Homo sapiens: one gene and its partner. The protein of the gene in region 1 interacts with the protein of each later gene in a pairwise test. Each region holds a gene or a part of one and is shown on either strand. Other genes may lie near its edges.

What was found. The genes of interacting proteins can lie anywhere in the genome.
Region 2: the proteins of DCP1B (region 1) and BAG4 interact in binary tests that used the Homo sapiens proteins (3 or more experiments, as listed by UniProt).

What each region holds. Positions count from the first base shown.
Region 1 is NC_000012.12:1,952,447-1,959,478, reverse strand, and holds part of DCP1B (mRNA-decapping enzyme 1B), read left to right. Parts: intron 1-3,918; coding exon 3,919-4,047; intron 4,048-6,190; coding exon 6,191-7,032. UniProt on the Homo sapiens protein: May play a role in the degradation of mRNAs, both in normal mRNA turnover and in nonsense-mediated mRNA decay. May remove the 7-methyl guanine cap structure from mRNA molecules, yielding a 5'-phosphorylated mRNA fragment and 7m-GDP.
Region 2 is NC_000008.11:38,186,829-38,193,860, forward strand, and holds part of BAG4 (BAG family molecular chaperone regulator 4), read left to right. Parts: intron 1-5,859; coding exon 5,860-5,967; intron 5,968-7,032. UniProt on the Homo sapiens protein: Inhibits the chaperone activity of HSP70/HSC70 by promoting substrate release. Prevents constitutive TNFRSF1A signaling. Negative regulator of PRKN translocation to damaged mitochondria.

The sequences.
Region 1 (7,032 bases):
ATACCTATTGGCCACATGTATGTCTTCTTTTGAAAAATGTCCACTCAGGCCCTTTGTCTATATTTTGATCAGAACATTTGTTTTCTTTTCTTACTGTTGAGTTGTTTGAGTTCCTTATCTACTTTGGACATGAATCTCTTATCGTATGTATGTTGTGCAGGTATCTTCCTCCACTCCATAGGTCATCTCTTCACTCTGCTGTTTCCTTTGCTATGCAACAGCCTTGGGTTGGATGTAATCCTGTGTGTCTCTTGCTTTTGTTGCCTGTCCTTAGGGTCACATCGAAAAAGCCATTGCCCAGAGCAACGTTAGGGAGCTTTTCCCCTGTTTCCTTCCAGGAGGTTTATAGAAAAAGTCATTGCCCAGAGCGACGTTGGGGAGCTTTCCCCCTGTTTCCTTCCAGGAGGTTTATAGAAAAAGTCATTGCCCAGAGCAACGTTGGGGAGCTTTCCCCCTGTTTCCTTCCAGGAGGTTTATAGAAAAAGTCATTGCCCAGAGCGACGTTGGGGAGCTTTTCCCCTGTTTCCTTCCAGGAGGTTTATAGAAAAAGTCATTGCCCAGAGCGACGTTGGGGAGCTTTTCCCCTGTTTCCTTCCAGGAGGTTTATAGAAAAAGTCATTGCCCAAAGCGACGTTGGGGAGCTTTTCCCCTGTTTCCTTCCAGGAGGTTTATAGAAAAAGCCATTGCCCAGAGCGACGTTGGGGAGCTTTTCCCCTGTTTCCTTCCGGGAGGTTTATAGAAAAAGTCATTGCCCAGAGCGACGTTGGGGAGCTTTTCCCCTGTCTCCTTCCGGGAGGTTTATGGAAAAAGTCATTGCCCAGAGCGACGTTGGGGAGCTTTTCCCCTGTCTCCTTCCAGGAGGTTTATAGAAAAAGTCATTGCCCAGAGCGACGTTAGGGAGCTTTTCCCCTGTCTTCTTCCAGGAGGTTTATAGAAAAAGCCATTGCGCAGAGCGACGTTAGGGAGCTTTTCCCCTGTCTTCTTCCAGGAGGTTTATAGAAAAAGCCATTGCCCAGAGCGACGTTAGGGAGCTTTTCCCCTGTTTCCTTCCAGGAGGTTTATAGAAAAAGCCATTGCCCAGAGCGACGTTAGGGAGCTTTTCCCCTGTCTTCTTCCAGGAGGTTTATAGAAGAAGCCATTGCCCAGAGCGACGTTAGGGAGCTTTTCCCCTGTCTTCTTCCAGTAGGTTTATAGAAAAAGTCATTACCCAGAGCAACGTTGGGGAGCTTTTCCCCTGTTTCCTTCCAGGAGGTTTATAGAAAAAGTCATTGCCCAGAGCAACGTTAGGGAGCTTTTCCCCTGTTTCCTTCCAGGAGGTTTATAGAAAAAGTCATTGCCCAGAGCGACGTTAGGGAGCTTTTCCCCTGTTTCCTTCCAGGAGGTTCATAGAAAAAGCCATTGCCCAGAGCGACGTTGGGGAGCTTTTCCCCTGTTTCCTTCCAGGAGGTTTATAGAAAAAGTCTGCCCAGAGCGACGTTGGGGAGCTTTTCCCCTGTTTCCTTCCAGGAGGTTTATAGTCTCAGGCCTTACGCTTAAGTCTCTCTAGAATTCTTAAATTTGTGAACATCCCAAGAAGTGGAAGTAGGAAAAATGTTGAGCTATCAGTATATATGATATGGGTAAAGTGAAGTCTGTCTAGTTTACAGGAGGTTAATAAAATAATTTGAAAACTTATTTTGGCTGAAATTTTGTGCATTCTCTTTTGAGAAATAACTTTCTGTGAATCTGCTTTAAAGTAGAAAAGATGTTAATTTGCATTTCATCTCTTTTTATCTCCGCCCTATTCAATTTCTAGTTGAGATGCAAGTGAACAGTAAAATAACCAAATTTTAGTAAGAACAAGAGGCAGGACCAGAAATGATCTACAGGCTGCATAGTTAAGCTTGGAGTATTCAGAAGTGGACTATTTGTGTTTTGTGGTTTAAGACAAGAATTATTGGCTCTTTTCTGGATATAGCTGTGAGTTATTTATGAAATTATAGAAATTTTTTTGTTGAATGATAGAATTCAAAAGAATATAAAAAGAAAAATCACCAATAATCCTATAAACTGAAGATAGAAACTTTTTATACTTTTATTGTATTTTGTTTCAAACATCTCTCTTGGCATAAATACATATGTTTATGTATGTATGTGTTTGTGTGTGATTAAAACTGGATTATATGACATACTTTTTGAGGTTTTATTGTATTTTAACCTCAGCATCCAACAGAGGAAGTTTTTGAAGTTTTAAAGAAATGCCTCAGGTTCTCTGTGAAGAATCCATTATATGCTTTTTCAAAAACTGTTTTTCCCCCCAGGATTTTAAAGATATTTAGGTCGGGAAAAGCATACAAAATTAAACAACTGGAAAATGAGCTACAAACTACTGAGGTGGATGATTAATTCTGAGCACTCTGATAAGAGGGAGCAATTGTTACATAAAAGCAAGGTTTTGTAGGTAGGCAGTTGTAGTGACACAGAAAACAGCTTCTGGAGATAACATTTTAACTAGGAAAAGCTATCAGGCTTATTCATATCAACAGACAAAGCATCCTGTTAGCCCATATGGATATGGGCATAGGGAAGCTGGGAAAAATCTGCCTTTCTTTGCCGGAAATTCAGTGTTTCTGAACATAGAAAAAGAAGAAATACAGAAAGCGTCATTCAAAGAAAGGAAGCATTCACGTTCTTTTAAATAGCAAGGCTTTTCATGCCAAAATTGTGTAAGGGATTAAATGTTAGCCTGTATTCTTGTCTTGTCTTGGTTATCCATGACTTGGGAAAGCCATGCCAGTTGGTCCATGCCGCCATACCCTCATTCACCTAAGAAGAATTGGAAGTAACACTTTATGACTTATAAGGTGATTTTGCATCCCACGTAATACTTGTGCTAAATATACAAATTATTGATAGAATGCCTGGAGGAAGAGAATCTTTTGTATGGTTAACCTCACATACAGTGCATACAGTGGTAATAGATGCCACACCCCCAGATCGTTGGATTAGAGAATACACATTGATAACTGTAAAACACATTGGGAATGCTGGGTTCCTGAGGGACAAGATTGTGTTTATATTTCATTTCATGTCAGGTGTGGAATATTTTGGGGCCTGAGGCCTTGGCTGTACAGTGGAAACAAATGATGCTTCAGAGAGTCTGTAGTACAGAAAGCAGCATTTTATATTGTTTTATTTAGTGTTTTAGCAAACTAGACACCAGTATCATTGCCATGCTCTTTTTGTTATGAATCCTACTGTGTTAGCAATTGCATGGTTGGTTAGATTAATGTATAATAATGAGTCAGTGTTGGAAATGATGAGATTTGTCTCTTGTCTCTTTCTCTACAAAATTCTAATTTGTAGTAAGTAGCTCAGAACGCTCAGATTTGAATTACTCTGTTTATGCAAGAAGTCATTTATTAAATAAAGATGATGTTAGTAATTTTTAAATCAGTGGTTTGAGTCAGCTTTTTGGTTTGTAGACCAAAAAAGATTTAGTTACTTTGATGAAATGTACTCAACTACTCTCCAATTTTAAGTCAACTGCTTAAATTGTCCAGACATGTTATTTAAGGAATGGTTTCTATATTTGTTTATCATTGAAAGACATTAGACTATATATATTTAAACGTATAGTCAATATATTAAGCACAGAACCTTTCAATTATACAGGTGTCTTAAGAACCCCTGGTCCTGGAGGCTGGTGTTGTTAGTAATATTTAGAGCACTGAATTGTCCAACTAAGAAAAATTAAATTTTAACTTGATTTATACTCAAACATAGCTCTTAGAGAAATTTAAGGGATTTTCCTTTGTGCATGAAAATCTATCAAAAACACAGCCGTCTACCAATTAGATAAGAAGTAAAAAGGTAGTCTTTTAAAAAGACTAAAGCTTTTCTAAGCCAAAAATGAGGGGATTTTCTTTTCTATTTCAGTGTAAAACCTGTTCTGAGCCAAAAAAGATAACCAGTTCCTCTGCCATCTATGACAATCCAAATCTCATCAAACCAATTCCAGTGAAACCCAGTGAAAACCAGCAACAGCGTATACCTCAGCCCAACCAGGTACGGAGTTCTCTGCTTGTCATATTCAGTGTGTCTCTAGAATTCTTAAAGAACTTTGACCCAGAATATAGTCAGGGGAGGGCCTGGTGTTGTTGAAGAATGCTTTCAGGTAAACCCAAGAAAGCGGGATTTCAGAATACAGATTTTTTCATTATTAATAACTTACTCTTCCTAGAAGAGGGTTAAAGTTTTTACTTTTGGCATATACCACATTCTGTGCTAATCTCTTGTGAACTTGAACTCCTTAAAAGATAATGTATTTTTTAAAAAACAACAAGCCAGCACAGTGGCTCAAGCCTGTAATCCCAGCACTTTGAGAGGCTGAGGCGAGAGGATCATTTGAGGCCAGAAGTTTGAGAGCAGCCTGGGCAACACAGTGAGACTCCATCTCTACAGGAAAATTAGCCAGGCATGATGGCGTGCACCTGTAGTGCTAGCTGCTCTGGAGGCTGAGGCGGGAGGATCCCTTGAGCTTAGGAGTTTGAGGTTACGGTGAGCTATGGAATGCGCCACTGCACTCCAGCCTGGGCAAGAAAGCAAGACCATGTCTCAGAAAACAAAAACAAACAAACAAGCACCCTAGAAAACTAATAACATTGTCAGAGATGACAGAAACATTACCCATTGGGTCCATATTCTTCTGGGGTGGGTGGCTTCCCAAGGCCACCTGGGAGAACCACCAAGGACACAGAGTTGATTTGAGCACTTCTGAGCACCTCCTCTGTGCCAGATGCAGAGCTAGCACTGTAGACTGGGGTAGCTGCCGCCGAGAGCTCAGAGTCCAAAGGAATGGTATAAAACTCCTCTTCAGATATGATGACTTGTCACTGTCTTTGCAATCTAAATTAGAAATATTACAGCAGCTTTTGTGTTAGTGTATATATATATATATATACACTTCAGAATAGTACAGCAATGACAAAAATTGTCAATCTGTAGGTCCCATTAATGATTGTAAATATAATATTGCTGTGTCATTTTATCATGACTATGACTAATTAAAAAGATTTTCTTAAAGGAATTAGTTTATATCAATTTTGAAAATGAACATGGAGCCAAAAGACATAAAGACTAGTAATGAAAATCTTATATTGAATTTTTAAAGAAAAGAAGTCTTCTAATTTTTTAGCTTTCTTTTTATTGCTTGTTTTATGGAAAGTTTTTATTATATTTTAATAGCGAGACCTGAATATGTTGACTTTAAAATGAAGCTTGTGGTTTTTTTTCTTTCCTCTTTTATTTTTTTTTTTGAGACAGATTTCATTCCTGTTACCCGGGCTGGAGTGCAGTGGCACCATCTCAGCTCACTGCAACTTGTGTCTCCTGGGCTCAAGCAATCCTCCCACCTCAGCCTCCCAAGTAGCTGGGACTACAGGCGTGTGCTGCCACATCTGGCAATTTCTGTATTTTTTGTAGAGATGGGGTTTTGCCATGTTGCCCAGGCTGGTCTTGAACTCCTTAGCTCAAGCAGTCTGCCTGCCTTGGCCTCCCAAAGTGCAGGAATTACAGGCATGAGCCACTGTGCCTAGCCTCATGTTTTCTCAGTGCAACAATGCAGAAAGCAACAGAAGTAAAGAGCAAGAAGGAAGTAGCTTTGTAACTGGCTGGGCCAAGGTAGATTTTATGTATCCAAGGACTTTTTAAATCCTACCAGTATATATTTGAAAGGATCAAGTTAGATTTAAAGTCTTCCGTTTCTTTCCAGCCCTTGATTTCCATAATTCTGTGAAAAACTACTAGAAATTCTGAAATGCTTATATTCCTTTGTATTCTCATATTACTCTGCAGGCTTAGATGGGCTTCCTATTGAACAGATTGTTTATTTTTTTAGTGCATATAATTTCCTACCAAGGTGGTTCCCAATCTGTGAAACCCCAGGCCCTTGAAGATCTTATACCTGTTTTATCGGTCAACAGATATTAAAATATAATAACTGTTTTGGGGGTGCAAGGGGAGCATGCTGTGAAAATTTTTGACATTAAAAAGGGGATCTCATTTTTCAAGTTTATTATTATTATTTTTCATTCTCTCTAATCAATCCTTTGTAAATAGAATAAGTCATCAGATAAGTTATGTTTCATAGCACTTCCTCATATAACCAAATTGTTTGTAGACTCATGTCAGATATCTTTATTTTTTCCAGACCTTAGACCCTGAACCCCAACACTTATCCTTGACAGCTCTGTTTGGGAAGCAGGACAAAGCTACATGTCAGGAAACTGTGGAGCCTCCGCAGACTCTCCACCAGCAGCAGCAGCAGCAGCAGCAGCAGCAAGAGAAGCTTCCAATTAGGCAGGGGGTTGTACGCTCCCTGTCCTATGAGGAACCCAGAAGACACTCACCCCCCATTGAGAAGCAGCTCTGTCCAGCCATTCAGAAACTCATGGTCAGGAGCGCAGACCTCCACCCATTGTCAGAGCTGCCTGAAAACCGGCCTTGTGAAAATGGCAGTACCCATTCTGCGGGAGAATTTTTTACAGGACCTGTCCAGCCAGGGTCTCCTCACAACATTGGAACTTCTCGTGGTGTACAAAATGCTTCCAGAACTCAGAACCTGTTCGAGAAACTTCAGAGTACCCCAGGGGCAGCAAACAAGTGTGACCCTAGTACACCAGCACCTGCCAGCTCAGCTGCCCTGAACCGCAGCAGAGCTCCCACTTCTGTCACCCCTGTGGCTCCAGGAAAGGGTCTGGCTCAGCCACCACAGGCCTATTTCAATGGCTCCCTTCCACCTCAGACAGTAGGACATCAGGCTCATGGAAGAGAACAGTCCACACTCCCAAGACAAACACTCCCCATCTCTGGTAGTCAGACTGGCAGCTCTGGAGTGATCTCCCCTCAAGAGTTACTGAAGAAGCTTCAGATTGTACAGCAGGAGCAGCAGCTGCATGCCTCTAACCGGCCAGCCTTGGCCGCTAAGTTTCCTGTGCTCGCTCAGAGCTCTGGAACAGGGAAACCCTTGGAATCCTGGATCAACAAGACACC
Region 2 (7,032 bases), on another chromosome or scaffold:
GGATGACTGTGGGCATACCCAAGGCTGTGCCTTCTAATGAGCAATATCACATACTTCATACTTGAAGTTTGAGGGCAAACAGACTTTGCAAAAATAATCCAGCTGGTTACTAAACAAATGAGCAAATGACAATAACAAGCCTAAGGTGGAAAAGGTGGGACCAGTAGTACTCAGAGTTGCTAAAATGTCTAGTTTCCAACAAAGAATTATGAGCTATGCAAAGACACAGGAAAGTATGACCCATACACTGGAAAAAAAGCAGGTAACAGAAACTGATTGTGAAAGTGACCAGATGTCACATTTAATAGACAAAGACTTCAAAGTAGCCATTATATATGTTCAAATAACTAAAAAACTATGATTAAAGAAGCAAAGAAAGGTGTGTGATAATGTCATGTCAAATAGGGAATATCAATAAAGAGATAGCAATTATATATTAAAAAAGAAACAAATAGAAATTCTGGAGTTGAAAAGTACAGTAACTAAAATGAAAAATTAACTAGAGGAGTTCAATAGGCTAGAACTGACAGAAGAAAGAATTCATGAATTTGAAGATAGATCAATACAGATTATGCAATATGAAGGAGAGAAAAAAGACTGATGTGTTGGAGAAGTGTCAGACACCATTGAACACACCAGCATATCAGAAATGATTAATAACAAGGTTAATATAACAAAAGATGCAAATATGCTCTTTTCTTCTCAGATTCTTTAAAAGACATTATATAAAGTAATAAGTATAACAATATAATGTTGAGTTTGTAACATTTGTAGACATAATGTGGATTACAATAAAATCACAAAAAAGGGGAAAAGGAACAGACTTATATAGGAATAGCATTCCTGTATCTCACTGGAATTAAGTTGGTATAAATCAGAAGCTGATTCTGATGAGAAGCATATTGTTAGCCCAGCTGGGTGCTGTGGCTCACGCCTGTAATCCCAGCAATTTGGGAGGCCAAGGTGGGCAGATCACAAGGTCAGGAGATCGAGACCATTCTGGCTAACATGGTGAAACCTTGTCTGTACTAAAAATACAAAAAAAAAAAAAAAAAAAAATTAGCCGGGCGTGGTGGCGGGCGCCTGTAGTCCCAGCTACTTGGGAGGCTGAGGCAGGAGAATGGCATGAACCCGGGAGGCGGAGCTTGCAGTGAGCCGAGATCGTGCCACTGCACTCCAGCCTGGGTGATAGAGTGAGACTCCGTCTCAAAAAAAAAAAAAAAAAAAAAAGGAAGAAGAAGAAGTGTATTGTTAGCCCAAGAGTAACTGCTAAAGAAAAAAAAAGTATAATCATTAAGTTATAATGCTACATTTGAAAATATTCACTTAATGCAAAAGAAAGCAGTAAAGGTGGAATAAAGGACAAAAACACATGAGACATATAAAAAACAAAAAGTAAAAATAAAACATGTAAATCCAGCTATATCAATAATATTAAATGTGCATGGATTAAGCAATCTAGTCAGAAGACAGACTGGATTAAAAAAAAAACAAGATCCAATTATATGGTGTCTAAAGGTGGCACACTTAAGGTTTAAAGATACAAATAGTTTGAAAGTAAATGGATGGAAAAAGAAATATAATGCAATAAAGAAAAGATAAATGTTTGAGGTGTCAGATATGCCAGTTACCCTGTTTTGATCATTACACTTTATATACATGTATCAAAATATCACATGTATCCCAAAAATATGTACTACTTTTATTAATTAAAAATTACATATATGCACATATAAATACATATATATACGTGTATACACATATATATATGCATGTATACATATATATACATGTACACATATATATACATATATACATGTATACATATATACATGTATACATATACATGTATACATATATACATGTATACATATATATGTATATATATATAAAAATATGCAAAAGGCAACTATGAGAAAGCTGGAGTGGCTACTTTAATATCAGCTTTTTATTTACTTTTTATTTATTTATTTGTTTATCTTTGAGATGGAGCCTTGCTCTGTCACCCAGGCTGGAGTGCAGTGGCACGATCTTGGCTCACTGCAACCTCCGCCTCCCAGGTTCAAGCAATTTTCCTGCCTCAACCTCCCAAGTAGCTAGGACTACGGGTGTGTGCCACCATGCCCGGCTAATTTTTTTTTTTTTTTTGAGATGGAGTCTCACCCTGTTGCCCAGGCTGGAGTGCAGTGGTGCAATCTCAGTTCACTACACCTCTGCTTCCTGGGTTCAAGCAATTCTCGTGCCTCAGCCTCCTGAGTAGCTGCCCGCCACCACACCCAGCTCATTTTTGTATTTTATTAGAGACGAGGTTTCACCATGTGGGCCCGGCCGGTCTTGAACTCCTGACCTCAAGTGACCCACCCACCTCGGCCTCCCAAAGTGTTGGGATTACAGACGTAAGCCACCATGCCAGGCCTGAATTATATACTTTAAATAGGTGAATTGGATGGTAGTGAGTAAAACTTGAAAATAAGAATACCAGTTTTATGAGTAACAACTAATGGATGCAGTTTCGGTTTCTTTGCAGTTCAGCTTGTCCTTAGAGAATAAATTCCACTGAGGACGTACAGTCAAAATAACGTGAGCTAAAAGTCATTTGAAGTAATTCTTTTTTCTCTGTGGTTATGTTACCAACTTGATTGTTAGTTATTGCATTAATTGACTTTTCCTATACTGAAACAACAATTCCAGAATTTTAGTAGCTTATAATGATAAACATTTATTTCTTGCTCAGGTTCTGTGAGTCCACTCTAGTGGTTCTTCTCTAGGCCCCAGGTTCAGTTCAGGTCTACCTGTGTGTCTTCTCATCCTGGGACTTCAGTTGAAAACACAGCTCCCATATAAGATAATGTAGGTCTTGTGGAGGGCATGGGAACACAAGAGGGTTGCTAGAATTTGCAGCGACTCCTAAATCCTTTGTGTGGACTGGCACACTGTCACTTTTATCCATATTTGTTTGTTTTGCATAAAAGGTTAAATTACGTTTTGTTGTTGTTGTTGTTGTTTTGAGACGGAGTCTCCCTCTGTTGCCCAGGCTGGAGTGCAGTGGCGTGATCTAGGCTTGCTGCAAGCTCCGCCTCCCAGGTAGCTGGGACTACAGGCGCCCGCCACCACACCTGGCTAATTTTTTGTATTTTTAGTAGAGATGGGGTTTCACCGTGTTAGCTAGGATGGTCTCTATCTCCTGACCTCGTGATCCACCTGCCTTGGCCTCCCAAAGTGCTGGGATTACAGGTGTGAGCCGCTGCACCCAGCCAAATTATGTTTTTTACTTATGTGAGTTTGTAATGACACCACCACATTCACTATCCCCCAGTTCTTCCTCATTTTGCCCCATTCCATATTTTATCTTTCCTTGTCCTCGTGACAATATCGGTTCCCAATAACACTACTGTATGTATTTATTCTATTCTACAATACACACAATATAGTTTAAAAATTAAGATAGTAATATCACTACTAATAACATTATATGAAGAGTTTAAGATATTTTTAAATTTCTTTTGCTTTTAGAAAGGTACCACTAAAGATGTCCATTCAGAAAACTGTTCAAGAATTATTTGAATTATATTCTGTGTGTGGTTATCAAGTCAGTAGGTTTTTTCTTTTTAAAGATGGGGTCTTACTCTGTTGCCCAGGCTGGAGTGCAGTAGCACAATCATAGATCATAGCTCACCATAACCTTGAATTTCTGGACTTTGCCTCTGCCTCTCACCTCTCAGCCTCCTGAGTAGCTGGGACTATAGGCACCCATCATCACGCCCACCTGACATTTTTTTTTTTTTTTTTGGGTAAAGACTGAGTCTCATTATTTTCCAGGCTGGTCTTGAACTCCTGGTCTCTGGCCCCAAGCAATCCTCTTGCCTCAGCTACCCAAAGTGCTGGGATTACAGATTGAGCCACTGCGCCCAGCCCAAGTTGGTGGGTTGTCTTTTTTTTTTTTTTTGAGACGGAGTCTCTGCTCTGTGGCCCAGGCTGGAGTGCAGTGGCATGATCTCTGCTCACTGCAACTTCTGTCTCCTGGGTTCAAGCTATTCTCGTGCCTCAGCTTCCTGAGTAGCTGAGATTACAGGCACCCACCACCACACCCAGCTAATTTTTGTATTTTTAGTAGAGACGGGGTTTCACCGTGTTGGCCAGGCTGGTCTCGAACTCCTGACCTCAGGTGATCCACCCGCGTCAGGCCTCCCAAAGTGGTGGGATTACAGGCGTGAGCCACTGTGCCTGGCCAAGTTGGTGGTTTTTTAAAGAAGATAAAATACAGTTTGAATTCATACTGATATTTACAATTCAAATTAAGGATTATAAGGTTTTAAGTTTCATTATTCTTATATCTGTGTCTCCTATCTCCCATTGTGAAAATACTGATTCCCAACAATACCAATGTAAGTATTCATTTGCAACTATAATACCCGCATAACAGTACCAAGATAACAAACAGTACCAACAGTGTTGATAATTATGATTACTGAAAAAAATTCAAAGTATTACTGAAAACAAAGTATTATGAAATGGATAAGTAGTGCAGTTAAGCTAATAGTGATAATCTCTCAGTTATTTCAGCTGCCAATGAATTTCTTTGTGAAATCATATTCAAAGTTTTAGAAAAAATGTCGAAGGTCCTGTTCAAGCTTAAAACTATACTTGGGCGGGCACAGTGTGGCTCACGCCTGTAATTCCAGCACTTTGGGAAGCCAAGCCGGGTGGATCTCCTGAGGTCAGGAGTTCAAGACCAGCCTGGCCAAAATAGTGAAACCCGGTCTCTACTAAAAGTACAAAAAATTAGCTGGGCGTGGTGGCAGGTGCCTGTAATCCCAGCTATTCAGGAGGCTGAGGCAGGAAAATTGCTTGAACTTGGGAAGCGGAGGTTGCAGTGAGCCGAGATCGTGCCATTGCACTCCAGCCTGGGCAACAAGAGCGAAACTCTGTCTCAAAAAAAAAAAAAAAAAAAAAACCCTAAATCTATACAGTTGAAAGCAAAATAACTCATAGGATAATAAATGTATGTAATAAACCAGATAATAGGTGCTCTGAGAAGTTTTGAGTATATTTAGTCTTTTATCAAAGTTTATTGGCTTATTGCAAATCATGCGTTAACTTTCTGAGTTGGAGAGAAAGGCTGATGAAATTATTGTCGTAGCTAGATTTTCTCTTTGGATTGGTAAATGTTCTGCATCAATGCCTGACACTGAGGCTGCCAGCGGAAAGCTTAGCCATAGCACAGAGTAGAATATGAAAAACTAGGGTGTGTCAAGGCAAAGAAGTTGGAGATTGAAGATGTATGTGCTTGAGCGAAACTCTAGTAGTAATGTCTTTGTGTTCCAAAGTTATTGGTAAATATAACAGTAGCAAAGAACCATTTTGTTGCACTAATTAAATTAGTAGTCTTGAGGATTAGTTATTGGAGAAGGATAGAGGTGATCTAATGTCTCTGATTTTGCTAATCATCTTGATGTAGTAGAATTCCTTTATATAGCATTTGGTGTGGTGGCATTGTCGAAACAGATAAGAACAGCTTTTTACTAGGTAATAATTGTTTTGTCATAGAGCATTTGATTTACCATGTACTGAATAATTAGCAGTTTTATAGTTGGGGTCCTATTCCCTTTTTTCTTTTATTTTTTGTTTTTAAGAGACGGGGTCTCTCTTGACCATACTAGACTCAATCACCTGAGCTCAAGCGATCCACCCACCTCAGCCTCCGCAGTAGTGGGACAAGAAGCGTGTGCCACTGTGCCCAGCTTATTGCTTTTTGTCTATTGCTTTTTTTTTTAATCCTTATAACCTGCCTCTATCAATCTATCTTAAAATGATGTATGAATGTTATTAAGAGTGAATTTATTTTTCTTTTTTTCTTAGGAGCAGCCACCATATCCTAGCTACAATTCTAACTATTGGAATTCTACTGCGAGATCTAGGGCTCCTTACCCAAGTACATATCCTGTAAGACCAGAATTGCAAGGCCAGGTATGGTTTAAAAACAGAGACTTTCTGAACTTTTTCTTAATGAATAGATTTATTTTCAAAACCTGTGCAGATTTTAGAGCAGTGATGAGTGTGTGTTTTTTTTCTTTGCTTTAATGGGCTCCATCAATCTCATCTTAATGTTTTTAGCTCAGAGATAAGGAAATATCTAGGCAAATATACCTATAGCTTGAGGCATAATAAATTATTTTCCAGGACCCAGAAGGAACAAACATAAAATATACTTATTTTTGAAAACTTTACTGATTACAGACATTTAATTTAAAATATTTTAAAATTATAAAAAGTACAGAAAATATATACATTTTAAATCTAGCATGCAGGGCTGGGTGCAGTGGCTCACAGCTGTAATCCCAGCACTTTGGGAGACCAAGGCAGGCAGATCACCTGAGGTTAGGAGTTCAAGACCAGCCTGGCCAACATGGTGAAACTCCATCTCTACTAAAAATACAAAAATTAGCTGGGTGTGGTGGTGGGCGCCTGTACTCCCAGCTACTCGGGAGGCTGAGGCAGGAGAACCGCCTGAACCCAGGAGGCGGAGGTTGCAGTGAGCTGAGATCACACCATTACACTCCAGCCTGGGCGACGAGTGAGACTCCGTCTCAAAACAAAAAACAAACAAAAAAACCCCACGAAAATCTAGCATGCAGATTTGTCAATTTCTGTTTGCCACATTTGTTTCAGATTTTTAAGAAAGAAGTAAACCAAATACAATTGAAGCCCAATGACACTTCTTTTCATTTACTGAAATTTTATTTATTTATTTATTTGAAACAGGGTCATTTTCTGTTGCCCAGGCTGGAGTGCAGTGGTATGATCTCAGCTCACTGCACCCTCCTCCTCACAGGTTCAAGTGATTCTCCTGCCTCAGCCTCCTGAGTAGCTGGGACTACAGGCACACACCACCATACCCAGCTAATTTTTTGATTTTTTTTTTTTTTTTTGAGATGGAGTCTTGCTCTGTCGCCAGGCTGGAGTGCAGTGGCATGATCTTGGCTCATTGCAGCCTCCGCCTCCTGGGTTCAAGTGATTCTCCTGCTTCAGCCT